Regions from separate parts of the Homo sapiens genome. Here region 2 is linked to region 1. The links come from fine-mapping of genetic effects on gene expression. A gene starts in region 1. The other region holds a variant in brackets. All regions are shown on one strand. Distances are from middle to middle. Region 1 holds the start of FGD2 (FYVE, RhoGEF and PH domain containing 2). Region 2 overlaps FGD2 (FYVE, RhoGEF and PH domain containing 2).

Evidence for each region.
Region 2: its variant is fine-mapped to the expression of FGD2 in whole blood (TOPMed, PIP above 0.99).

What each region holds. Positions count from the first base shown.
Region 1 is chr6:36,998,237-37,010,260 of GRCh38, reverse strand. It overlaps FGD2 (FYVE, RhoGEF and PH domain containing 2), which reads right to left and starts at 4,606. Exons shown (of 16, transcript NM_173558.4): 1 at 4,376-4,606; 2 at 1,196-1,427. The coding sequence starts at 4,443. RefSeq lists enhancers at 2,471-2,640, 4,461-4,590, 11,391-12,014, 12,015-12,024 and a silencer at 4,846-5,008.
Region 2 is chr6:37,019,916-37,035,965 of GRCh38, reverse strand. It overlaps FGD2 (FYVE, RhoGEF and PH domain containing 2), which reads right to left. Exons shown (of 16, transcript NM_173558.4): 10 at 15,346-15,425; 11 at 15,227-15,257; 12 at 14,362-14,454; 13 at 13,596-13,727; 14 at 10,028-10,174; 15 at 8,391-8,537; 16 at 6,897-8,018. The coding sequence ends at 7,803. Among named protein-coding and RNA genes, the nearest start is that of FGD2, 22 kb to the right of the region's middle. RefSeq lists enhancers at 6,244-6,323, 9,608-10,545, 10,257-11,456. The variant G/C (reference allele first, on the strand shown) is at 8,207.

The DNA of each region.
Region 1 (12,024 bases):
CAGAGACCTCCCCAGAAACCAAACCTGCTGGCACCTTGAACTTGGCCTTCCAGCCTCCAGCACTGTGAGAAAATAAATGTCTGGTGTTGAAGTCTGGGGCATTTTGTTACGGCAGCCCAAGCAGAATCACACAGACCCCCGAGTGAGGCCAGTAGAAAAACCTCCCGGCAGCATCCCAGTCAACTCACAAAATGTGAGAAACAATAAACAGTTACATTCAGCCCCTACATTTTTTTTTTTTTTTTTTGAGACAGAGTCTCGCTCTGTCACCCAGGCTAGAGTGGAGTGGCGCAATCTCGGCTCACTGCAACCTCCTCCTCCTGGATTCAAGTGATTCTCCTGTCTCAGCCTACTGAGTAGCTGGGATTACAGGCGCCCACCACCATGCCCAACTAATTTTTGTATTTTTAGTTGAGACAGTGTTTCCCTATGTTGGCCAGGCTGGTCTTGAACTCCTGACCTCAGGTGATCTGCCCACCTCGGCCTCCCAAAGTGCTGGGATTACAGGCGTGAGTTACTGCACCCGGCCAGCCGCTACATTTTTGATAGGTTTGTTCAGCAGCGATTGAAAACCAGGACGCATTACTATAACCACTATCCCCATTTTACAAATGAGGAAACTGGCACAAAGAGACTCAAGTGACTTGCCCAAGGACACACAGTTAGTAAGCAGACGTGCTGGGATGTGACTCCAGGGAATTTGGGTGCACAGTATCTGCATGCCAACCCTTGAACTCTGCAGATGAGAAAACTGCAAGCCACAGAAGAGATCAGACTGGGCTTTAGTCTAAGGGCAGGACAGTTCACACTCAGACCTCTATTTCTAGGTTGAGATTGTTGTCTCCTCCAGTGGGTAAACTGAGGCCCCACCTGAGAAGAGTATTAGGTTCACAAGATGGAGACTGTTCCAAGCTGTGTGGCCTTGAATAAGTTCCTTAAAACTGTGTTTCAACTTCCTTGTCCAAAAAACTCCTACACGAGGGACTCGCGAAGTAATCCAGCACGGTGCGTAGCAGGCAGTTAGTGAATCAAAGGCCATTAAGCATGGGGAAATCTAGCTCCCAGCTGACCTCTGATCACACCATACCCCCACCTGGGGAACTGCTGGCTCTGGCTAGGAAAGCATGTGTGGAGGGGAGGTCAGGGAGAGCTCCCCACCCCAGCACCCCACACCTCTACCTCAGCCCTCAGGCACCTGCGTCCCCGATCCTGAGAGGGTCACAGGCTGGCAAGATTTCCTCCAGGCTTCGCTGGACAGCTTGTTCTTCAGGGAGTTCAGGTACCTCCTGCTGACTGTCCTGGGCTCAGACCCCACGGCCTCCCCGACATTCGTCTTCTCCCGTGGTCCTGGGGACTCGGGAGGCCTGCACTCAGGGCGGTGATGCACGTCCTCTAGCCTCTGGCCTCTGGGTGCTGCTTCTGGGGTCCTGAGGAGAAGAGACAGACCTGAGGGCTTCCTCCCTGGAGAACAGGGAAAACAGCAGCAAGTCCCTGGTGTGGATTTGGGTTGCCTGGTGCAAATCCCCAGTGCAGGGGCCCCTGGGTGCCTGGCTTTCTTTGGGAACATGCTGAGTAAGACTTTCACTTCTCTCCCAACACATTCTTGGAGGGAACTCAGTGTTCAAAATGAGTCAGGGTGGACTATATTTTATTTTCTGGGGAACTGCATACTTCCTTGTTTAAAATGAAGCCACAGTGTCCAGGAATCCTTTCTGTATATAGGGGTTTTTGAGTGGTACCCCCTGGATTATCCTCACCTTTGGACCTCACCTCTGTTTTCAGTTTCCACATCAGTAACCTATACATCAAGGGAAGGTAGGAGCCACAGAACAATATAAAGTGAGAGCAGGCCTGCAAAAGCTGGGGCTTCTCAATGGGATCGACATCCTCCACACGTCCAGAAGCAGGGAGAGCCAGCCCAGCAGCAGATGCTCTGTTCTCCCAGGGACGGGCCTTCGTAGGTCACCTTTATTACCCTGTGTACTGGGTTCTGCAAGCCAGTCAAATTCCTTAGACAACAGGGCCCACCCTTGATGAATACACCCAACGTTGCCCTTGGTGTGGAAGGGCTTGTGATGACAGAACAGGGCAGGCATCCTTATGAGAAAGACAGGCCAGGAAATGGAAGGCCAAACAAATACGAAATCTCCAAAACTCCGTGAGAAAGGTTTTCATTACCCATATTTTGCACTCAAGGAAACTGAGGTCTGGACAGGATGAGTAACATGCGGCTCGGAAGTGGCAGAGGTGGGATTCAAATCAGGCGACTGCTTCCTGAGCCTTCACTCTAACCTGCCCCTCCCCATTTGAGTAAAGGAGAAACAGGTCCGCGGAGTCAAAGTGACTTGCCCCAAGTGACACAATTGGGTTTGTGGCAGCGAAAGCATTGGGACCTAGTGCTGTGTGGCTACTCCCAGGCTCTCCCACCCCTCCCTGGCACCCCAGTCCCTGGTTTCTCAGCCCATGGGTCTGCAGCTCATGGGCGTAGCTGGTTCTCAGGCTTTCTGTTCTACATTTGGTTTCAGGTTCTGCATTTCTGTTCTAGGGCCCCTGGCCAGCTTCTGTTTCCTCTTTGCCCCTCAGTTTCAGATCAGCTGAGGTGCTGGAGACCTCATAAGGAAGCCCAGGCCAAGGCAGTTGGTATGGGTCCCCTCACTCAGTAAGGAGTGGCTCTCACCCTCTTGATGCCTGCTGGGACCTAACTCCCGTCTAAGGGCTGCCCACTCCTGCCAGGGTTATTGCCTGGGCAGAGCACAGCATGCTGAGGGGCTCCACCCAGGTGTGCCTAGTCCACGTCAAGCATGTTGAGTGAGGTGGTACCATCCACCCACACCCAAGGGGGTGGTGGGCCAGGAAGGCGGCACCCAAGAGCTGTCTTTGGTGCTGAACAGGACGAGCTTGGCAAAGATCCCGGGAGAGGCAGGGGAGAATCACCCAGCTCAGGAAGTTGAAGACTTCTAGGTCTACATCTATGCCATCTCCACCCTGAAGCCTACAGGAAACATTGCCTGCCATGAGTGCCCTCAATACAGCATCCGGGCCATTCCTAGGACATCTACTGTCTATGACCTTGCATCATAGTTATTCGATGAGCTCAGCATCCAAATACTGAAACCCTTCTTCATCCTCTACAGTTCCTGTAGGATGCTGTGCTGTGCCACCCATGTCCCTCCTTCAGGAATGAGGCCTCCCCACACCATCCCCACCAGCTACTGGTAGTACTGGGGGCTGCCGGGTAATTTATTGGCTGAGTCCCTCTCTGGGAATCACTCTCTGGAAGAGAGAGCTGCCTCACCCAGAGTCTCTTGTCCAGTCCACATGGAGATACAAATACCCAGCCCTCTTCCTCAGCTGGAACAACCGAGAGGCATCCCAGCTCCAGAGCTCCCTGGGACAGGCTGAGGCCTCTGTGGCAGGTGCACTGCAGTTCAGCATCTCCCCCTGCCCGGCCCTGCTTCCCTCACACCCACAGCTGTTGTTCCCAAAAGCTCTCCCTGATAAATCACCTGAGGCAAACCTCTGTCTGAGTCTATTTCCAGAAAACCCTACCTGGGACAGCCCCTAACACAGTCCTGAGCTTAAGAAATGCCTGCAGAATGGATTGATGCCACACATAACACACAACACACACATACACACACGCGCACACACACAAACACACATGCTCCCAGGGCTACCAATGACTCCACGCATCTGGCCCAGCCTTTTCCCTCCAGACAGACGCCCCAGCATTGCCCCAGATACTTAAAGCACTTGGCATCCTCACCTCTCTGTGTCTCCATTTCCTCATCTATAAGACGGGAACAGAAACAGAATCTACCCCTATTAGGCTGTTCGATGACTAAATTAAATAAGTAAGGACATGAACTTAGAGTAGGGAGTACCCCATCAGGATGCTGCCCGTACATCCTGGTTTGCCTCATACGGTCCCAGCTTTACCTGTAATGCCTCCCCCACAACCACCACATTTTATTTGGCATTTACTTTCAGTTTCAATTGTGTGCTGAATGATAAATTATATGGTTATCCTAATCATAGGGCGTAAATTCTTGGTGAGTATCAGCTACCTTTTCTGAGAGGTGCTGGCAGGCACTGGGTGGGGTCCTGTGCCCACACACAGGCTTTGGTCTGCCCATGCTTGCTCGTAACCACACCTGTCTGGACTCTCCCAACACACACTGGCACTCTCACCCCTGCCTGGCTCCTGGTGTCCCACCGACACTCTCCCATGCTCCAAGGAATCCGTGACCGAGGAACGCGGGGCTGCCCCTGCAGGAGGAGGGTCCGGGGCAGGGCCCAGGGAGAGAGCTGCCAGAAAGGCTGGAGGGTGGCTGCCAGCCCACCATGGTGACCCTCCCACCCCAGCTGCCCATACCTGCTATTCTCAAACACAGTGACCAGGTTGGACACAGATGCCAGCTTCTCCTCACTTGCCCCCTTCATCCTGCCGGTTTCCGGGGTGGATCTCAGCTACCCTCGAAGCAGAGAGAGAGGCCTCCAGCCAGCACACTCAGCCACGCTGGCCTGGGACAGATAGGCTAAATCACCCATGAATCTGTTCTGATCTTTCTTGAGGGCTCAGAAGGTCGGCTCTTGGCTTCAGAGTGAAGAAAGAGGAAGTGGTCCCAGAGCCACAGCCCTGCAGGGGAAAGGCCAGCACTCCCGCAGTGGGAGGAGCCTGCTCGGGCCCCACCTCTCCCTCAGGGGGGCTGACCTTTCACACCTGTAGACCCCCATTCCAGAAGCCACCTAAGAGGTGGCAACAGGGCCCAGAGGTAGCTTCTGGAGCCCAGTCTGGGCTGGTGCAGTGGTTTGCACCTCTAATTCCAGTGCTTTGGGAGGCCGAAGCAGGAGGATTGCTTGAGCCCAGGAGTTCAAGACCAACCTGGGCAACATAGTGAGACACCGTCTCTTAAAAAAAAAAAAAAAAAAAAAGGCCACCCGGAGCCAGACCCTTGGCTGGTTTCTTGGCCTAGTGGTTCCAGCCAACCACACTTTCTCCTTCAGAAGGTCCAGTGGCTTTTACTTGGCCTCTTTCCCAGCACCTTCTTTTCTGCATCTGCCCCTGCTCACAGCTGTAAGGAAATAATGTCTTTTTTATTCTTTAGAGACAGAGTGCGGTGGTGGGATCTCGGCTCACTGCACCCTCTGCCTCCCGGTTCAAGCGATTCTCCTGCCTCAGCCTCCTGAGTAGCCGGGATTACAGGGCCTGCCACCACGCCCTGCTAATTATTTGTATTTTTAGTAGAGATGGGGTTTCACCATGTTGCTCAGGCTGGTCTTGAACTCCTGGCCTCAGGTGATCCTCCTGCCTCGGCCTCCCAAAATTCTGGGATTACAGATGTGAGCCACTGTGCCTGGCCAGGAAACAGCATGTTTTATTTAAAATAATCACAAACCTGGTAAGGGTGGCAGGGAGTACTGTGATGTTCCCACCTCCCCACTGGGGTTCTCTCATTTTAGTTGTTGCTGTCATCACCTCATTGCCCCAAGGGAGGGCAGTTTCCTCCCTGAAACTCAGAGGATAATAATAGCTAACATGCACTCTTTTTCATGCTTATGAGTATTTTCTTATTAATCCTATAACAACCTCATGAGGTAGGTACTATTCCTATCCCCACTTTACATAGGAAGAAACAGAATCAGAGAGGTTAAGTAACTTGCCCAAGGTCACCCAGGAAGAATACAAGAGAAGTTGGATTTCCAAAGCAAAAGTGGGTGTCCTACAGTTCCAGCAAAGGTTCGTTGGGAGCCTGGATGACCATGTTCTTGCTGCTCCATCCCCAGGCCTCCCTGATCCCAGGACACTGGGTTGTCTTTGCCTGAGGCCTCCTTTACCACCTGGTCTCCCGGCCCTTACAGAACAAATGGACGCTGCCTCTGTTCCCCTCCTTCAAGCCCCACAGGCCGTTCAGGGCCCTCCCACTGGGCTCTGGTCCCACCAGGGCTCTCCACTGAACCTGGTCTGTGTCCTGGAGTGCAGGGCCTGAGCCTCGGTGCTCTTGGTACGTGAAGTGCCTGGAACAGCTTCACGCTCCAGTAACTGTGAACCCCTGGGGCCTCACATGCCCAACAGCCGCCCTCACCCCAAGCCTCGTCTGAGTGGTTTCTCCCACCAGATGCCGGGCCCCCTGCCCCAAACCCTAAGTCTCACAAACCTCCATTTTTGTTTTTTACTTTTTATTATGGAGAATTTAGAACATATGCAAAACTAGACAGAATCATATAATGCATCCCATGAACCCCTAATCCAGACCATAACAAACCTCAGCTCACAGCCAGTCCCCTGTCCCTGCTGCAGCCACATCGACTCTGCCTTCTCATGTCATTTTGAAGAAAATCCCAGATGTCAGATGACATTACCCATAAACATTTTAGTGTGTATCTAGAAGATGAGAACTCTCTCTCTCTTTTTTTTTTTTTTTGAGACTGAGTCTTACTCTGTCACCCAGGCTGGAGTGCAGTGCTGCAATCTCGGATCACTGCAATCTTCACCCCACTGGGTTCAAGCGATTCTCCTGCCTCAGCCTCCTGAGTAGCTGGGACTACAGGTGTGTGCCACCACACCCAGCTAATTTTTGTATTTTTAGTAGAGACGGAGTTTCACCATGTTGGCCAGGCTGGTCTCGAACTCCCAACCTCAGATGATCCACCTGCCTCGGCCTCCCAAAGTAGTGGGATTACAGGCATGAGCCACCGCGCCCAGCCAAGAACCCTTTAAATAACTAAATATACACACACATAAATGTATATGCATATATACACATGTATAATAGTAATATTGTTTTATATAGACATACATGTTTTACATGTTATATCCATGTGTATATACATATGAAATAATATTACCGTTATCATACCCCAAGAGATATTTAGCAATAATTCCTCAATATAATTAAATATCCAGAAAACATTCCAAGTGCCAATTCCTTATAAATGTTAAATTAAAAAAAAAAATCAGAATCCAAATAAGGTCCACACATTCCCTGAGCTGTCACGTGGATGAATTCACTTTTCATCCACACGTTCCCCTGGTCCTTTCCGTTTTCCCACACAGCATAGTGGAGGGACCCTGGGTTGTTTGTCCTGTAGGTCCCACAGCCAGGACTTAGCCCATTGCAGCGCCATACCCTGGATTTCCTGTCGATGGTGGTTAGGTCTAGAGGCTCGATCAGAATCACCTTTAAATGCCACTTCTTCCCGATGCCCTCCCTGGCCTGGGGGCGCCTCCCTCCCTGGTGTTCCTCTCCTGGATTTCCTCCTCTGCCTCCCACCAGTCTCTCTGCTCACTGGCTGGCTTGCTCCCTCCACGCAGGGCACACCTGAGTACGTGCACTTCCTGGTGGGTCCCCAACCCCAGCGCCCTTCCCGCATACAGTGGGGCCTCAGAAGGCATGTGGAATGGACAGACATCACACCCCAAGCCTCAGAGGATTGTCTTACCCCTCAGCTGCCAGTGCTTTGAGCATCCAAGCCTGAACAATGGGACCTGCCCCTCCCATGGGGGCTGGAGGGTGGGTAGGTGGGCCTTCAAGAGGCCTCCAATACCCTAACCCTGAAGATGGCACAGGCACCATCAGAGCTGCTTCCCTCCAGGAAAAAGAGGCCAAGATGTCTACACCCCCAAAACAACCTTCCCTCATCATCCAAGGCTCTGCCTCCCCTGTCCCCTACCACTCTGACTTGGGCCCCTCACAGTCTGCCAGGCTTTCTGCCTGTACCTGCAGGCATCACCTGAGACTCAGCCTCGGCCTTCTGGTCTCCTGATTCACACACACCTCCCACCCAATTCAGAATTTATCCTGGAGGTCCCACTGGTACCTCTTCCTGCCCTTCTACCCAGTGGATATGTCCAACACCTTCAGGATATCACCAGGTAGATGCCTACCTTTGCTTCCAACTCAACACACAACTCTCTAAAGCCAGCACCATTATTGCACTGAAGTCATCTCAAACTCACTGGGGCAGCCATCAAGATCCTCCTGGTTGACACTCTCAGCTACTTCTTGCCTGCACACACCTAATCTGTGTTGGGATCCAAACCTGCCGGGTACTGTGGCTGAGCTAAGCTGAGCCACGCTGAGCCACAGCCCCAGAATCCCCTTCCCTGCATGGTCTGGACTACTGTTAGCCATGGATGCAGGAGGGGATATAGCAGCCCTGTTTTGTTCCTGGGTCAGTGCAGAGCTCCAGCCCTGTTGCAGATCATACATGTTGATGTGGGTCTGTTGCTTCTCCACTGATCTTCCTTTTCAGCTTGTCCAGCTCCTGGGCCAGGTGCATGCTTAGCTCCAGGACAAAGATAACCTGTGTCATCAAAGTTGATGGCTTGGAGGTGGCCACCTGTCCGTCCTCCAGAGTCCCAGCTCTTCCTGACTAGTTCAGTTCCTCTTTGCTCCCCCTACCTCCCTGCCGGCTTCTCCTCCCCACTGCCTGCCCTGCTTACTTTAGACTCAGAAGCATTAACTCTTTAAGAAGCTCCCACACTGTATAAGGTCAAATTCTGTATTCTGTATTGGATCCCTGCAGTTCTGGCTTGGGCATCCCTCCCTCACACTCTCTCCCTCCCACCTTCCCCCATCTGAGCTGCAGGGAACTGAGCTCTTCCATCTTCTGTATTGTGTCACTCCCGGTCCTTCTGCTTCTCTGTAGCACCTTGGACCAGTAACAGAACTTCACTTTCCTCTTCTGCCACATGGGGATAATTATACTGCCAACCTCCTGTGGTTGTTATGAAGATTAAATGGGATAATAATATATAGAAGAGGTTAGAGTAAGGCCTGGTACTGAGTAGGTACTCGGTGACTGTTGGCTACCAGCATTCTTACTTTTGAGAGAAGCCTTTGCTATAGCTCCGCTCTGCCTTGACCAATCAGTTCCCTTTGCCTAGAGCAGTGGTCCCCAACCTTTTTGGCACGAGGGACTGGTTTCTGGGGTTGCGGGGGGTGGGGAGATGATTTTGGGATGAAACTGTTCCACTCAGATCATCAGGAATTAGATTCTCATAAAGAGTGAGCAAACTAGATCCCTCACATGCACAGTTCACAATAGGATTCGCACTCTTATGAGAATCTAATGCCACTGCTGATGGGACATGAGGCAGAACTCAGGTGGTAATGCTCACCCGCCACTCACCTCCTGCAGTACGGCCCAGTTCCTAATAGGCTACGGGATCCCTGGCCTAGAGTGTCTTCAGTCTGTCTACAGCCGGTTCACTTCCTCCAGGAAGCCTTCCTTTATACCTACTGCTGGAAATTCATTTTCCTCCTCAGAGACCTGGTGTTCCTCTCTGTTTAATTTTGTCTTTTCCGCCCTATTCATTAAGTCACGCATTCAGTAGATAAGTGTTTCTTGAGCACCTACTATGTGTCAATACCATAGTAGAGGTTGTAGATAAAACACAGTCCCCAGCCCTTTAGCTCAAACTCTAATAAGGAAGATGGGCCTGTTAACCACTAAAATAGGATGTGATGAAAGCTTTGAACAAGGGAGTTATGAACATCCAAAGAAGGGTCATCAGAAGGCTTTGTGGCAGAGGTGACTTGAAGTATGAAAGATGAAGGATGGGCTGGGTGCGGTGGCTCAAACCTGTAATCCCAGCACTTTGGGAGGCTGAGGCGGGCGGATCACAAGGTTAGGAGTTTGAGACCAGCCTGGCCAATATGGTAAAACCCCGTCTCCATTAAATTAAAAAAAAAAAAAAGCAAGGTGTGGTGGCAGGTGCCTGTAGTCCCACATACTCAGGACGCTGAGGCAGGAGAATTGCTTGAACCTGTGAGGCGGAGGTTGCAGTGAGCCGAGATTGCACCACTGCACTCCAGCCTGGGTGACAGAGTCTCAAAAAAAAAAAAAAAGATGAAGGATGAAGGATGAGTTAACTCTGTGTGGACAAGACAGGAAGGGGCATTCAAAGCAGAAGGAACAGCATGTGCAAAGGGATATGGGCTTGAGAGACCATGGCTACCATGGCTAGACTGGGAAGAACACAGGGCCTCGCACACGTGGGTGTCCAGGGCCTGGGAAATGGTGGAACCCGCAGCTGAAGGGGTCCTGGAAGCCTGGCCTGCTAGGCTTTGTCTGCCAAACTGAGGTGCTTAGAAGGTTAGGGGAGTGAGTATAGCGTTTTCAGCAGAGTAACCCCTGATCCAGTCTACAGATCTCCCTCTGAGCAGGGGCAATGTCTCCATTTCAGGGCTCTTGGGGTCTTTGGCATGAATAAACCTCTTGTTTTTTTTCTCCTCTTCTCTGCTTTCAAGCCCAAGGGAAGATGGAAGAGCTCAGTTCCCTACAGCTCAGATGGGGGAAGGTGGGAGGGAGGGTGAGGGAGGGATGCCCAAGCAGAACTGCAGGGCCAGGTGGGGACTCGGCTGGCGAGGGATCTCTACCCTGGGGTGCATGCAGAGCGGCTTTGTGTGTAGACTGGAGGCGCCCAGAGGACCTCTTGGGGCAACTTTGGGAAAGCAGAAGGGGCATTTAGAGGCTGCCAGGGAGGAAGTGTCACAACTTAGGATCAGGATGCTATGAGTGTATATGTGTGTATTTGTGGGGTGTGTATGTGACATGTGTGTATCTGGTGTGTGTGTAGGTTGGCGTGTGTGCACGTGCATGTATGTATGTGTGCATTGTGTGTATGAACGGTGTGTGTGTAGCAAATCTGCAGGGGTTCACCAGGTGTAGCCTTTCCGGGGACAGTGAGGACTCCCCAAAGGAGCATTTATCTTCAGGGTGACAAGGACTGGAGGGGACAGGCTGGCATGTTCCCAGGCTCCCCCTTGCCAGCCATCCCACCTCCAGCCTCAGTCAAGCACACAGCACCTGCCAAGGGCTTAATGGCCCGTGACAGACAGGCCTGTGAGCTGGGATGATGCGGCTCTAGAGAGGATGCAGGCAGCCAGCTGAAACCTGTGCCAGAGGCTGCCGTGACCCTTGCCACCCCTCCCGGTCTCCGCCTCACCCCCTCCTCCTGCCCACCCCCACCCCCTGCTTTTGGAAGGCCCTAGTGAGGGCGCTGTCTGGGTAGTCACATGGTGGGCAGAGGCCACACTGCCGATGGGAGGGATGGGCGCCAAGGGCCTCCGATCCCTGGCTTGGAGGGAGGAAGCTGAACAAAGCTGGGCTCCCTTGGAGACTCGTCTCATCTGTCCCCTCCTCCAAGCAGCCAGAATTGTTCCACTCTGTCCCTCTGCCGGAAATTCCACCCTTTGCCGAGGCTTTCTTCTGGAAGGGTGCTGGCCCCTTCTGTGGAAGGCCCGCCGGCCTTCCCGCTTTCACCTTTTCCAGGAACCTCCCTATATTTTGCCTGCTATATGCCCCTGACCCTCTGTGGCCTGGGTGTTCCTAAATGTTACTGTCAACCTGAGGAGTGGAATTATTCCGAGTTGGTTCAGCCCTGTGAGGAATACCGGGAGGCAAAACCCACCTCTCTCAATACAGGCTCCTTGCGGCTCACTGCCCAGGAGGATCCGCTCTGAGAGCACAGCCCAGATAGCAAAGGGGTGTCAGGCCTGACGTGGGGGGCAGATGGGTGTCAGGCCTGACGTGGGTGGCCAGAGGACGTCAGTGAAGAACATAAACAGCTCTTTCTTCTTCAGCGTGTGAACTATCTAGTTTCAAAGTTGGCATTCACAAGGATTGGGCAAGGCTTGTGCCAGGATTGGGCAAGGCTTGTGCCAGGCCCTGGCACCCACCCCACTATTCAGGAAGAACTCAAGGTCACTAGAAGCAGAGATCAGGTGGGGCCCAAGGAGGGAAACCAAGAGTGAAATCGCAGGCGGGCTGAACCCACAGTGAATGTGCAGGCTGGCAGGAGATACGCCCCCGGGACACTGGGAGACGGCAGAGGCAAGGATTGTGTTTCTAGGGGAGGAGAGGGGGCCTGGCAGAGCCAGGGCCGGGATCTGGGCAGGGAGGCACCAGAAAGGAGCCAGTAAAGCAAGGCCAGAGCCCAGGAGTGGTGCCAGGCTGTGCCTGAGAAGGCACCCAGAGTGCAAGCACTCAGCCACCATGCAGGGGCCTCACACCCAG
Region 2 (16,050 bases), 24 kb before region 1:
CTGCACTTATCAACCCGTCATCTAGGTTTTAAGCCCTGTATGCATTAGCTATTTGTCCTAATGCTCTCCCTCCCCTTACCCCCACCCCCCAAAATAATTTTAAAAATAAAGTCAGACCAGGATATATTGCCTTGCTCCACAAAAATAAATATGTTTCTAAAAAGTTTACTCAAGCCTGTTTCTAGAAAGTGAAGCATAACTTCCAACTGGCTTTCATTAAAACGTCTAAGATGTATTCATGTACTGACTCCATTCAAGGAGTGGCAGTACTGGTGTTGGTCTGAGCACTAGGAGCCTGCTGGGGTGAACCCACCCACTCTCTGAGTCTGGGCTTGATGATGGAAAGAGAAAAGGAGAGGTGAATTGAGTCTCCTTGAAAGACATGAGAAATTAGAGCCGGGCACGGTGGCTCACGCTTGTAATCCCAGCACTTTGGGAGGCCAAGGCGGGAGGATCACCTGAGGTCAGGAGTTCGAGACCAGCCTGGCCAACATGGTGAGACCCCCGTCTCTACAAAAATAAAAAAATTAGCTGGGCGTGGTGGCATGCGCCTGTAATTCCAGCTACTTGGGAGTCTGAGGTGGAAGAATCACTTGAACCTGGGAGGCAGAGGTTGCAGTGAGCCGAGACTGTGCCATTGCACTCCAGCCTGGGCGACAGAGCGAGACTCGATCTCAAAAAAAAAAAAAAAAAAAAATCAGAGAAATTAGAGCCCAGCAGAGAACACAGGAAGAGAAGTCAACACTGCCTGATCGCCTCTGCATCTGGGAGCTTGCTGGGCACTGTGCATGCTGGTACAACAGAAGCAGACAAAGAATTCTTCTGAGAGGCAAGAGAGGAAATCAAAATTGGAAAACAGAACCATATACTAATAATCCACTCATTTGCTGAGCACTTTACCATTTTCTTTTCTTTCTTTCTTTCTTTTTTTCTTTTCTTTTCTTTTTCTTTTTTTTTTTTTTTTTAATTTTTGAGATGGAGTCTTGCTCTGTCGCCCAGGCTGGAGTGCAGTGGCATGAACTTGGCTCACTGCAAACTCTGCCTCCCCAGTTCAAGTGATTCTCCTGCCTCAGACTTCTAAATAGCTGGGATTACAGGCATGCACCAGCCTGGCTAATTTTTGTATATTTAGTAGAGAAGGGGTTTCGCCATGTTAGCCGGGCTGGTCTCAAATTTCTGGCCTCAAGTGATCTGCCTGCCTCAGCCTCCCAAAGTGCTGAGATTACAGGCATGAGCCACCGCGTCCAGCCCACTTTCCCATTTTCAATATCCTTTTACGCCTGTTACATAATTTGACTTTGAAATGACCCTATGAATGGATGGGGTGCATGTTCATCGTCCCACCTTGTGAATGAGGAAGGAAGCTGAGACCTAGACAGCAAAGTCACAGGAGGTGACAGAGCCTGTATTCAAACCCATGTTTTACAATTCTAAGTCTGATGTGCTCACTGCTGCTTTCCAGAGAGGTCTCGGATCATCTAGACTGAGCTCTGGCTTCCCTATTTACCAGCTGTGTGATTTTGGGCAAGTTGCTGAACCTCTCTGTGCCTCTCTGTTCTCATTCTGTACAATGGAGCTGGTATAAGGATTACATGAGCCAATAAAAAGAAAGCACATGGTAAGTGCTCATCAAAAATTAACTTTTGTTTTTATTCCTAGAAAAAAAGAAAGTGAGACATGATAATGGCAAAGATGAGAAATCTGAGAATCATAGAGAGAAGAGGGTGAGAAGAACAGTTCAGAGGTGGAAATGGCTCTAGCATGTCAGTGCTCAGCTCCCCCAGGCAGTAAGAACAGGAATACGGTGGCCAGGCAGAGGCCAGGGCAGGCCAGCAGTACCAGTAGGAAGATGCCCTCACCCCTACCTTGGCCTTCAACCTGAAGAAGCTCAGTGTTTCCCTAGGCCCAAATCTAGCTGGCAGCAAGCCCAGGACAGAGAGTGAGGACAGGAGTGGGGAAAAGAGATGGATAAGGCATCTTGGCCACCCTCGAGGGGCTTGTGGTCTGGTTGTAAGATCGAGACAGGGCTATGTGAGCTAAGATGGCTTCCCTCAGTCTCCCCAGAATGCCAGGCTCCCTGTCCAGTGAGGTGCTGGTAAAAATGGAACAACTAGCTCTTTGTTGGGGGATGACAGGTCAGAGGGGCTGACATGCCAATTTTCATGTTTGCCAATTTCCATGGTGGAAATACTCTCATTGTGGCCATCTTCAAAAAGAAGCAGGTCCTGGTATCAAGCCATGAGGGCGGGACAGGCAGTAAGGTGAGGACAAAGGTGTGGGGTCACTGTCAGAGGTTGGAGACCTGCGTCCCGGTCCCTGAGAGAGTGCACAGGAATGCTACGTGCCTTGGACACATCATTTTACCTCTTTGACCTCCAGTCACCTCAAGGAAGAAAATGAAAATGTACTGTGTTGGAGGGTGGGCAGAGCTGGCGTGAATCCAGGCCAGAGGGTATTTTTCAAGCACTTGCTACATGCTAAGCCCTGGGATACAGAGACGAATAACAGAGCGTCATGCTGGGGAAGTGGAAAGATGTGAAAGTCCCATGACCTCATGGACATAGTGGTGGCGATGATTAGTAAGTACGAGGTGATGGCCTTGTCGTGTCTGAGTCACACAATTCATTCTGTCAGTCCCCAGATCTTTTGTTTTGTTTTGTTTGAGACAGAGTCTCACTCTGTCACTGAGGCTGGAGTGCAGTGGTGCCATCTCGGCTCACTGCAACCTCCGCCTCCCAGGTTCAAGCGATTCTCCTGCCTCAGCCTCCCAAGTAGCTGGTACTACAGGCGTGTGCCACCATGTCCAGCTAATTTTTGTATTTTCTGGTAGTGACAGGGTTTCACCATGTTGCCCAGGATGGTCTCAAACTCCTGATCTCATGTGATCTGCCCGCCTCAGCCTCCCAAAGTGCTGGGATTACAGTTGTGAGCCACCACTCCCAGCCAGTCCCCAGATTTTTATTGAGGACTGGCTGTGGGCCAGGCACTGGGAAACAGCAGTGAACAAAAGACCAACTCTCTGCCCTCCAAAAATGGAGACAGGACACTAATCTAAGAAACATAAAATAGAAGCCGGGTGCGGTGGCTCACGCCTGTAATCCCAGCACTTCGGGAGGCCGAGGCGTGTGGATTACGAGGTCAGGAGATCGAGACCACGGTGAAACCCTGTCTCTACTAAAAATACAAAAAAATTAGCCCAGCGCAGTGGCGGGCGCCTGTAGTCTCAGCTACTCAGGAGGCTGAGGCAGGAGAATGGCATGGACCCGGGAGGCGGAGCTTGCCACTCGCACCACTGCACTCCAGCCTGGGTGACAGAGCGAGACTCCGTCTAAAGAAAAAAAAAAAGAAAGAAAGAAACAAAATAGATAAAACGATTTGTATTATGTGAAGCAGAGTCAGGGGCAGAGTTGCCAGGAGCACTACGTGAGGCAGGTGGACAAGGAAGCCTGTCCGAGGGCCAATGAGGCAGAGACTGGAGAGAAGTGAGGGAGTGCATCGGGCGGATTTCTGGAGGAACAGCATCCAGGCTGAACGAGCAGCAGGTGCAAGAGTCCTGAGGTGGAAGTGTGCTGAGGGAGGGAGGTGAGATGGGGCAAGGGAAGGGGGAACTCTGAGAAGCAGCCAGGGGTCATCCCAAAGGGCCTGGTGGAGCACACGGAGGGAGGCATTAGATGGGCTTCTAACCCCATGCTACTGGAGGGCTGGGAGCTGAAAACTAGCTCAGCTTTCAGATTTGAAAGAATCTGTGTGAAGATGCCAGAGGACAAGTGTGGGAGCAGGAAGGGCAGGTGGGAAGCTCTAGCAATCACCCCCAGAGATATCACAGTGGCCGGGCCAAGTGACAGCATGTGAGGGGTATGAGGTGTGAGGACGGGCTCTGTTCGCAGTATATCCTGAAGGTAGAAGCAACCAGGCTTGCGGCCAGAACAAATGGTCCCAGGAAAGCAGAAACGTCCATGAAGAGCATAGCTAGTAACAACTCCCAGCCAGCGAGCTCCGTCTGTGGGCTAGGAGCTTTCCCTGAATTATCTCACTTGGTTTTCACACCAAATCCTACAAAGAGGCACTGCTTGTCAAGTTACAATGAATACATGGAGGCTCAAGAGGTTGGGTGATATCCCCAAGACCCTATGTCAAGCCTTCAACAGAACTGGAATTTGAGCTTTTCAGGCTATCAAGGGGGTGCCCTTTGCATGATATCAGCTGCCCCTGAGATTTGGAAAGTAGTAGCATATTACCTTGCCAGGCGTGGTGGCTCACACCTGTAATCCCAGCACTTTGGGAGGCCAAGGCAGGTGGGTCACCTGAGGTCAGGAGTTTGAGACCAGCCTGGCCAACATGGTGAAACCCCGTCTCTACTAAAAATACAAAATTAGCTGGGCGTGGTGGTGCATACCTGTAATGTCAGCTACTTGGGAGGCTGAGGCAGGAGAATCGCTTGAACCTGGGAGGCAGAGGTTGCAGTGAGCGGAGATCGTGCCACTGCACTTCAGTCTGGACAACAAGAGCAAAACTCCATCTCAAAAAAAAAAAAAAAAGAAAAGAAAAAGTAGTATAAGTAGTATACTACCTGGCACGTATTAGGTACACATAGTAGGTAATAATCATTTGCAAAATACCTACTTTTTTTTCATTTTGAGACAGGGTCTCAGTCTGTCACCCATGCTGGAGTGCAGTGGTACAATCATAGCTCATTACAGACTCAAACTCCTGGGCTCAAGCGATCCTCCTGCCTTGACCTCCCAAAGTGCTGGGATTACAGATGTGAGCCTGTATGCATTTCTTTGTATCATAAACATTTAAAAGGTCATGAGCCCTATACATTCACCAGAATGTCTAAAATTATTAATTTTAAAAAAACAAACTTCAAACCTGACTATACCAAATGCATGAGCAGGGGAAATGTCATACATTGCTGGTAGGAATGCAGAATGGTACAACCAATATGGAAAACAGCTTGGTAGTTTCTGATAAAGTTAGACACTTACTCAGTGACCCAATTTTAGGTATTTACCTAAGAGAAAAGAAAACGTGCTCACACAAACACTGAACATGAACGTTTATAGTTCATAGGAGTATTATTCATAATTGCCCCAAACTGGAAATAACCCAAGTATACTTAACCTGGTAAACAGATGAACAACTGTGGTATGCCCATGCAATGGAATACTACTCAGCAATGAAAAAGGAATGAACTACTGACATGGAGAACAAAATGGATGAATCTCAAATATATAATGCTGAGTAAAGGAAGCCAGGCTTAAAAAGCTATGGTTCCATTTAAATGACATCTGGAAAAGGCAAAATTATCAGTCAGAAACAGATCAATGGTTACCAGAGGCAAGGAGTAGGGGTGTGGGTTGACTACAAAGGGTGGCATGGGGACACTTATAGGGGGATTGTGGTGGTAGCTGTATGACTGTACTCTTCTGCCAAAACTTAGAAAATATACTAATAAGGGTGGATTTTACAGTCTGTAAATTACACCTCAGTAAACCTAACAATGACAGCACAAAGGTTGTGTGCCCTCGCTTCCCTCTCCTGACGGCTACCTCATTTTGCTCCACAGTGAAGCCACTCTCCATACTCCCACTCAGATTAAACCCCTGGAAAAGCTTAGGTATCAGTGCTGCAGAATCGACTCTGCTGTCACCGAGCCAGCTGCCTTCAGCATCATTGGCGAGTTTTAAAATGCTGATGCAGGCCAGGTGCAGTGGCTCATGCCTGTAATCCCAGTACTTTGGGAGGCTGAGATGGGTGGATCACCGGAGTTCAGGAGTTTGAGACCAGCCTGGCCAATATGGTGAAACCCCGTCTCTACTAAAAATACAAAAATTAGCCGGGCATGGTGGCGCACGCCTGTAATCCCAGCTACTTGGAAGGTTGAGGTAGGAGAATCACTTGAACCTGGGAGGCAGAGGTTGCAGTGAGCCAAGATGGCGTCACTGCACTCCAGCCTGGGTGACAGAGTGACAGACTCCATCTCAAAAATAAAAATAAAAATAAAAAATAAATAAAATGCTGATGCTGTCCGGGCATGGTGGCTCATGCCTATAATGCCAACACTTTAGGAGGCCAAGGCAGGAGGATTGCTTGAGCTCAGGAGTTTGAGGTCAGTCTGGGCAATATAGTGAGACCCCATCTCTACAAAAATTTTAAAAATTAGCTGGATGTGGTGGCGTGCACCTGTGCTTCTAGATACTCAGGAGGCTGAGGAAGGAGGATAGCTTAAACCCAGAAGGTCAAGGTTCCAGTGGGCTCTGATCACACCACTGCACTCCAGCCTGGATGACAGAGCAAAACCCTGTCTCAAATAAACAAACAAACACCCTACAGGAGGGAAGTGGCCTCAGGTTGGAGGCAGGCAAAGCTGCTGGGCCTGTGATGGGACAAAAACCTGTGACTCATCCATGCTTCCTCCTTTCAGGGCAGAGCCCAGCAATGGCTGGACCTGCTGAGAGCAGCTGAGGGTGTTCTGGCCACTGCTGGGGCCACTGCATGTGGCCTGCTGACCACTGCCACCCCCTGGTGGTCTCTTATGAAAAAGCATCCTCACCCACCAGCGAGGTGGGGATGAGGGGACAGGGATGCTCCTCCCGTCACCCTTCCTCCCACCATTCACCTTTCTCTCTTGTCTTCCCAGCTTCTTCACTCTCTTTCCCTCTCTTTTGCTTCTCCTCACTCTCCTCCCCTCTCTGCTTGTCTTATTGTTCTGCTCCATGATAGAAAGAGCTTTGACCTTAGTTCACCGGGTTAAAACCTGGCTCTGGCATCTACGAGCTACATGACCAATTGAGCCAATTACTAAACCTCTCTGAGTCGGTGTCTTCATCTGGAAATGGGGATAACTCTGGATGGTAAAATGACATAATCCACATAAAACACCTTGCACAGAGCCTGGTCCAATAGATGTTTATTATTATTATTACTACTATCATGACTGGCACTTGACAGGGGCTCAACCATTGGTTGTGGTAGTTTGCTCTCTTTATTCTTCATCCCAGGTAACCCAGGCTATATATTAGACTCCAGTGGGTACTCTTAAAAAATATGCATGCGCCAGGTATGGTGGCTCACGCCTGTAATCCCAGCACTTTGGGAGGTGGAGGTGGGAGCATCGCTTGAGGCTGGGAGTTTGAGACCAGCCTGAGTAACATGGTGAAATCCCATCTCTACAAAAAATAAAAAAATTAGCTTGGCACAGTGGCACACACCTATAATCCCAGCTACTTGGGAGGCTGAGGCGGGAGGATCACTGGAGCCCGGGAGAGCGAGGCTGTAGTGAGCCATGTTTGTGCACTCCAGCCTGGGAAACAGAGTAAGACTCTGTCTCAAAAAAAAAAAAAAAAAGACCCCATGCCTCCCCCAACTCAGCCCATTTAAATCGGTGGTGGTACTTCAGTACAGGCATTGTTTTTTACATTTTTAAAATTAATTTACTATGTGTTTTTCACCAGTACTCTTTAAAAGCTCCCCAGGAGATACAAATGAAAAACCATACTATGGTGACCACCAGTCCGGGGTTACCTGGGGCTTTCCCAGTTTTAGCACTGGAAGTCCCATGGCCCAGGAGCCCCCTCCCCGCAAGGCAAACTGAGACACTTGGTTGTCCCCTTTCTAGAAAGGAATGGACCCATATTTTCTAATCCCAGATCGGGACACGTGGCCTGGGCGCAGATGGCTGAATCAATTCTCTGAAAGCACCACTTGGGGCAGTGGGTCACTGAGGCCACAGGGTCAGTCTGTGGCAGGAGCTGGGTTCAGGGTGGGGAGAGGTGGGCAGGAGAGCGGCTGGCAGTGGCTCAGTCGGACAGGTCCCCATCGTTGGGCCAGCTGGGGCTCCAGCCACTGGCCGCCCGCTCCATGGCCTTCACCCAGCGGCCCTTCAGCTCCTCCGTCTCGGCCTTGAAGGTGTAGAGCTGGCCTGACTGCTGTAGCTGGAAGACCCGAGGGTCCCCCTGGGGCCCAACAGTCACCTGGTAGCCCAGCAGGGGGATGGAGGTGTGAGCCCTCATGTCCTGGGGGGAGGAGAGAGCAGTGGGCCACTGTCCCCTCTCAGTCCTACTGCCCCAGATAGCCATCGTGAAGGCAACAGCCACGCACGCACAGCTCACACCCTAAACCCCCATGGGTTGGGGGTGGGCTGGTGAAGGCCATCGAGGAAGAGGACAGAAGAACTGGCTGCCTCTGAGGGCAAAGCAGTGGT[G/C]ACCTAGAGTCAGGGCACAATTCTGAAACCTACCAACCTTGAGACTCCAGGATACCATATCCTCATTGGGCCTCAGTTTCCCTATCTGACATATGGAGCTAGCAATACTCACCCCTGACCCCCTTCACACACACGCTGTGGGAAGGCCAGGGCCTGACGGGGGGCGGGCAGGTGGTGGCCTTACCTGAGGGGCAGCATAGACATAGAGCACGAGGGGGTCATCCCGAGGGATCACACACCAGCCCCGGGGGCCGCTCTTGCCCCACTTGTCCCCGATGAGCTGCAGGAAGCTGCACATCAGGCTCTGGTCAGGCGTGGCTGAGGACCCTTTCTAAAACCAGAAGGAGGGACTGTCAGGGAGCAGAGCAGCCGCAAGTGCCAGATGTTGGTCTGGGGGCTTGACAATCACTATCTCCAATCCTTACAGCAGTACTGAATGGAGGGGTCCTTGGTCCTTGAGGCTCAGAGAGGTCCCATCAAGTGCCTGTGGTCACACAGCTAGCTGGCCAGTGGCAGAGCTGCAGTCAAACCCCAGCCTGCCTGAACCTGTCGCGTGTGTGCCCACAAGGGGCAGGTGCCGGGAGGGTGCCTGGAGCTGCTCCAGGAAACAGAATTGGGCCCTGAGAAGGGGCTGAGCATCTCCAGGGGCAGGCTGTGTTGCCTAGTGGTCAGGGGGTCCTGGGCCTGGAAGGATGGGGAGGATTGGAAACGGGGTGGATGCCCGTGGAAAAAGGCCAACTTTTTTTTTTTTTTCAGATAGTTTCTCTCTTGTTGCTCAGGCTGGAGTGCAATGGTGCAATCTCAACACATTGCAACCTCCACCTCCCGGGTTCAAGAGATTCTCCTGCCTCAGCATCCCGAGTAGCTGGGATTACAGGCATGCACCACCATGCCCGGCTGATTTTTTTTTTTTTGTATTTTTAGTAGAGACGGGACTTCACCATGTGGGCCAGGCTGGTCTCGAACTCCTGACCGCACGTGATCCATCCACCTTGGCCTCCCAAAGTGCTGGGATTACAGGCATGAGCCTTCCCGCCTGGCCAAAAGAGGCCAACTTGAACCTGGGAGTGAATCTCAGCTGGCACAGGCTGGGACCTTCTCCCACCTCCCAGGGACGGTGGGATGTCAACCTGGCCTTCGTGAGGGAGGGGCAGTGGACAGTGGTATTGATGCTGAGCTGGTTGACATTGTATTTGTGCTGCCTAGCTGAGCACAGTTGTACCCCCACAGGGGAGCACCTGTGGGGGCAAGTGTGGCTCAGTGAGGCCCCCAGGGCAACAGAAAGAACATCTGTGACTGAGATCAGAGAGCTGGCTCCTAACTTGCTGTGTGATCTTGGGCAAGTCACTCCTCCAGCCCTGGGTCTCCATGGGATAAGACCGACTGGCCCCTGGAGTCCCTTCCAGTTAGAATGGAGTCTCCAATCTGTCTGACCTGGAGCGTCAGTGTTCCCATCTGTAAAATGGAAGCGGTGACACCAGCTCTTGGCACCCTGGGACTGTCGGGGCAGGACATGGGGACGTGAACATGAGCTGTCCAGAGGGGCCGTACTATCGGATGGGGACATAGAGGAAGTGCAGAAGAATGTGGACGACAGCCTGCAGCCAAAGGGTGCCTCCATTTGGTGACAGGCTCCACACTGCCTGGGCTGTGGCGAGAGGCCTGGGGTCTGTGGGCAGAGAGAGGAAGAGGGAGAGGGGGGAGGGTGTGACCATGGCTGGCTTGTTCCTCAGCACTGGACAGTGTCAGCCCAGCATGGTTGCCGGGCACACATTCCCTGAACAGAGGACGGATGGTGAGCGCGGGGACAGTGGCCCTCACCTCCAGGATGCCCCGCCTCTTGTCCTCCTTGGCCTCAGGCAGCACATTTCCAGTGAGGAATGCGTAGCAGTGGAGGCAGACTCGGTTGGGCCTGTTGTCGTCGTATTTCAGTTCGGCCCGGTAGTCGGAGCACCTGGCACACACCACCTGAGGAGGACACATAAGGGGGCATGGGGCTGAGACCAGGCACCGGAGGGCTGGGCTCCTGCCTTGGTGGGCAGGTGGGGGCATGAGAGCAACCAGGGACTGGGGGAGGAAAAGAAAGCTTCGAGGGAGGAATAGAGGCAGAGCGGGGATGCTCCCCCATGCTGGTGAGGCCCAACTGCCTGGAGGCTGCGACACATGGGGGAGCTCGGGCTCGGGGCTCTTAGGCTGAGGGTTCAAGACCCGGCCCCCACCGCGAGGGCCGTAACTTCTCTCCCCTCCAGGTTCCCTCCGAGTGAGGGCTGCTGTGAACCCAAGGGGCTTGCCCCAGACGGGCCACTGGCATCTGATTCACTTTTCCAAATGCTGTCCTCTCCGCCATCTCACCTGACTCTCCCAAAGACCCCACCAGGCAAGCAGGGCCCAGCTTTTGTCCTCTCCTGACCCTGAGAGCCACACTGTTACCTGGCAGACAGGCCCTCCACACACAGGGTGTGTCTTTCAAGTCCCACAGTTTAGCTTTAAGATTCAGGCAGACTTTGTATTCTGCGCCATCATGGAGTCAAGTGTGTTTTCACCTAAAAATGATAGGCTGGTTGTTTTTACATGGGTACTCTGTGGAGCGGGGCCCACTCTCAGCTCACCACGAAGACACCCCCCAAAGGCTGACATGGATCATGCCGGGAGGCTGGGTAAAAGGGGCCTGGGAAGACTCAGAGAGGAACACTGGGTGCCGCAAGGTGTGACTGCGAGGAAGACTTGGCTTTATGGGGAGCCCAGATGTGGGCGTGGAGATGGAGGGCAGGAGAAAGGGGCAGAGGGAGTGTAGTTCATCAGGCGGCACCAGCCTTCAGGGAGCTCCTCTGTGTGCCCAGCACAGAGTGTGGCCTGGCAGGGACCTGGAGAAGAAGGCCTGGCCCTGCCCCACCCTCACAAGGATTCCCGTCTGGCAGGCAGGGGAGACAGAAACTGGCACCCGAACCACCGAAAGGATGACTCACTGGCTCAGCAGGCACGAAGATCTGCACAGGCAAGAGAAACCCACGGTCAGGGCACAGCCCCACACGGGGGCTTCAGCTACCTCAGGAGCATTTTTTTTTTATTGAGCGATTTCAATGTTTAAATATAATTAGTAAATATTTTTTCCTCTACCAACGTTTAATTTTGAAAAATTTCCTACCGACAGACAAATTGAACAAATAATACAATGATACCACCCACTAGATTCACTAATTATTAACATTTGTGCCACATTTGCTCTCTGTCTCTCTCTATATGTATGTATTTTATTTTTTTCTGAACCATTTGAGGATAAATTACAGTCATCATGACACCTCACCCTTAAATATGTAGCTGGTGGTCTCCTAAGAACAAGGGCATCCTTCTACCTATCCACGGTGTCACAGTCACGCTCAGGAAATTTATTGATACAATATTATTATTTTTATTTTTTTGAGATGGAGTTTTGCTTTTGTTGCCTGGGCTGGAGTACAGTGGGGTGATCTGGGCTCACTGCAACCTCCACCTCCTGGGTTCAAGCGATTCTCCCTCCTCAGCCTCCCGAGTAGCTGGGATTACAGGTGTACACCACCACACCCGGCTAATTTTGTATTTTTAGTAGAGACAGGGTTTCACCATGTTGGCCAGGCTGTTCTCGAACTCCTGGCCTCAGGTGATCCGCTCACCTCGGCCTCCCAAAGTGCTGGGATTACAGGTGTGAGGCACTGCACCCAGCCAATACAATATTATTATCTAGATATGTTGCATCATCAAATTTCTCCCAATGGTCCCAAGAGCAACCTTGATAGCTTTATTTTACCCCAGAAAGAATCCAAGCAAGGATCATACATTTAATTTAGTTGTCAGAATATTTTCTATCTTAAGCTGGAAGGCAGCTACACAGGTGTTGTTATTCTTTGTGCCTCTTTGTATTTCACTATTTTAAGTAATTTTTAAAGAACTACTTTCACTCACAAGTGTGAATCAATTCAACTCTTATTTACAGAAGTGAATCACCAGGAACAGTAGCCAATCCCCACATCCTTTCTACCTGGCTTCGGGATGTAACTCATCACTGACATCTGAAGGCAGGTGTGTTCCCAGGTCCTAGAAACTGACTCTGTCCTGATTGCAGTTGAACACATTTTGGGGACACCTCCCTGACTGGCCCCAACCTGTCCAGCTAGACTCCTCCTGTCCTCTGGAGGTCATCAAAGACTGAGGTTGCAAAGGGCTTCTCTGTTTGCAGAGTAAACAGAGGGGGTTGTGATGTCAACAGAGAACAGCTCAAGTACAGGAGTGCTTAAAAAGCAAAGCGAGATCTACCTCTGGTAACTGGGCCTGGATTGATAAGAGGAGAAACTGTAGTGGACACAGTACCCTCCTCAAGAAGCTGGTAGCTCACCCGCACTGGATGCCCTGCCTGAGTTATGGAGGAGGGGGAAAGAAAAAGAGGAGAGGGAAGGGAAAGAATGTTTTTTGGTGGAATCCTCACTGCCACACTGGAGGTAGGTTTCACGATCCCCATGGCGGAGTTAAGGAGACTGAGGCCTGAACCAGTAGGCAGAGTTAACAACAGAATCCATCAGGTGCCAGGGTGCTGAGGGCTTGCAGAGAAGAGAGGACAGTTAGCCGAAGCGGGTAAAGAGAGGATGACGGGGTGGGTGAGTGCATAGTGGGCATGGGCCTGGTGAGGTGGTGGGGCAAGGCCTGAGGGGGTGCGGGGCTAGATGCCCCTCCACTAGAACTGGGGACCATTTCCTAGCTCTGGGTCTCAGGGTCGTGGAAAATGATGATAAGAATGCAGGTAAATTCATAGGATCAGCTTCAGGGGTACCTTCAGCAAGTAATTTAACCTCAATGGGTCTCATTTTCCCATCTAAAAAATGGGAAACAGCAGCCTCCTGAGGTGTGCTGTGAGGGCCAGATGAGGTAGTAATACACACACCTGGCTCAGAGCTAGTGCCCAACACCACTGGGCTGCATTGGTTGAAGCCAGCAGATTTGGCCAAGATGGGGACAGCAGCACCTGAGCTGGGTGGGTAGAGGCCCAGGTAGGGCAGGTAGAGGCCTAAGTGGGACAGGTAGAGGCCTGGGTGACACTGGTGGAAGCCAAGGTGGGGCAGGTGGAGGCCGAGGTGGGACAGGTAGAGGCCAAGGTGGGGCAGGTGGAGGCCTAGGTGGATCAAGTGGAAGCCTAGGTGGATCAAGTGGAAGCCTAGGTAGGAAAGATAGAGGCCTGGGTGACACAGGTGGAGGCCTCGGAGGGACAGGTGGAGGTGACACAGATGGAGGCCGAGGTGGGGCAGGTGGAGGCCTAGGTGGATCAAGCGGAGGCCTAGGTAGGAAAGGTGGAGGCCTGGGTGATGCAGGTGGAGGCCTGGGTGACGCAGGTGGAGGCAGGAGTGCTGGCAGGAGTACTCACATAGCCGCAGGCCCGGCAGTGGTGGCGACGGCGCGTCAGAGCGTTGAAGGGCTCCTGGCAGCGCATGCACATGGTCACCATCTTGTCCCGGACCCACTGCGGTGCCCGGAGGCCCAGCTCCTCAGACTGCAGCTGTGGGTTAAGGGGAGTTGGGCAGGAATGGGCCCTTGGTGACCTTCTTCCGCCCATCCTCCCAGGGCCTGGGGCCCTGTGCCCACCTGCTGTAGCAGGGATTCTTTGTGTTGGGCTTCCCTGGGGCTTCTACAGCAAGCTGACTGACCTGATCGAGACCTTATGATACGTTAGTTACCATTATTCCTATTGTATAAGTGAGGAAACTGAGGCCCAGAGAGGTCAAATGACTCAGCAGTCACTCAGCAAGCCAGAGTTCAGCTCAAATCTGAACTCAAACCACAGATATCCTCCCCAGCCCCCACCTCACTCACCTTCCATCTTCCCTGAGACTTTGTATTTCTCAGATACTTTCAAACCCAAAACCCTACTGCCCCCTGCAGCTGGAGCTGCAGAGACGTGAAACACTTCCCCAAGACAGCTGTGCAGACAGGCTCTCAAAGGAAGTTTTGCTAAAGGGGAATGCTCAGGCCCTGAGTCGGGGGATGCGCTGGGAAGGCTTCCCCTGGTCCCTTCAGTCTCTCCTGGCAGATGACACTCCCTCTCCCTCTGAGCTGGTATAGGCAGAACAGAGAGGGAACAAGCTCTATTTGGGTTGGTGGCTCCAGCAAGGGATGAAAAAGCCTTCATTTACCTCCTGCTCCTGGATGTCTCCCTCAGGCCCCTGGGCCGCAGCCTTGAAGGTTTCATTCCGCTTCTCGATTTGGTCAATGGCTGCTTGGAAGGCCTGGGGTGCAGGGAGGGGGAGGGTCGGGGCTTGAGGTGTGGAAGGGAGGGATTGCTCCTCTGTCCATCCTTCCGTGCATGCAACAGACAGGGCTGAAAGCCCACTGGGTACCAGGCGCTGGATTCTACACACACGCGGGCTGCCTTATCGGAGGAGAAACTACCAGCCCCAGGTTACAGATGTAAAAACTGAGGCTCAGAGAGGGTAAGTGACTGGCCCTGGACTGCCCAGCTAGGCAATGAGAAGCAGCAAGATAGGAACCCAGATCGGTCTCCAAACTACCACAGAGCAGCTCCTTAGGAAGAGCAGGGAGCAGCTGAGCACACGCAGGTGTGGGAGCATGCACACACACACACGCACGCACACACAAACACAGACACACAAAGACACATACACACAAGCACGTACATACACATGCATACAAACACACACATACACACAAACACATGCACACATGCATGCACACAAACACACATATACACATACACACATACATGTACACACGCACACACATGCATGCACACATACACACAAACACACACACAAACACACAGACACAGACATGCACACACAGATGCACACACATGCATACACACATGCACACACACACACACACACACACATGCATACATACACCACTCCCTCCCCTTCAGCCCAAATAGGCTAGGGAGAATCCCAGGAGCTTCATCAAGGTAGTCTAGTACCAAGAAAGAAAAAAAGAAAAAAGAAAGAAAGGAAAAAGACTCCCAGAAGCCTCGGAGCGTTCCCATACCTGCATCCAGGAAATCATTTCCTCCTGGGACCTGCTCGGAAAGTGAACACAGGTGTTGAGGAGATCAGCCCCTCCCAGTTTTCCCGCCTGGCCCTGGGCCGCCACCCCAGCTCCTTTACCGGGCTTGCAGCTCCAGGGTGCGCTGCTTCCCGGACACCAGGAAGGAGTGGGGAAACTCAGCATCCATCAGCTCCCGCACCTGCCAAGAGGAGGGAGGCAACCAGTTCAGACTCATCATAGCCCGGGTCCCAGGCACAGCACTGTGGAGGGGAGGGAGGTGGATTGTGCCCAAGGGACAATTCAAATTCGAGAGACAGGGATGCAGAGCTTGTTCGCCACCTCTCTAATCCTGTTGAGCCAAGCAAATGCCCCTGCAACTGGGCCTCGCTCCAAGCAAATGGAACCTATGGCTCCTGGAATTTTAGCAGCAGCTAAGTTGACCCAGTGTGACGTGGAGATGACAATTTTTGACAATGGATTCAACAAAAAAGGAAATTAGATTTCAAAACTGGATGAGTATATGAGGTTCATTATACCGTTTTCTTGGCTTTAAAATTTTCATAATAAAACATTAAAGAAAATAACCTTGGCTGGGTGCAGTGGCTCACGCCTGTAATCCCAGCATTTTGGGAGGTCAAGGCGGGTAGATCACTAGAGGCCAGGAGTTTGAGAACAGCCTGGGCAATATGGTGAAACCCATCTCTTCTAAAAGTACAAAAATTAGCTGGACATGGTGGCGCATGCCTGTCATCCCAACTACTCGGGAGGCTGAGGCACAATAATCTCTTGAACCTAGGAGGTGGAGGTTGCAGTGAGCTGAGATT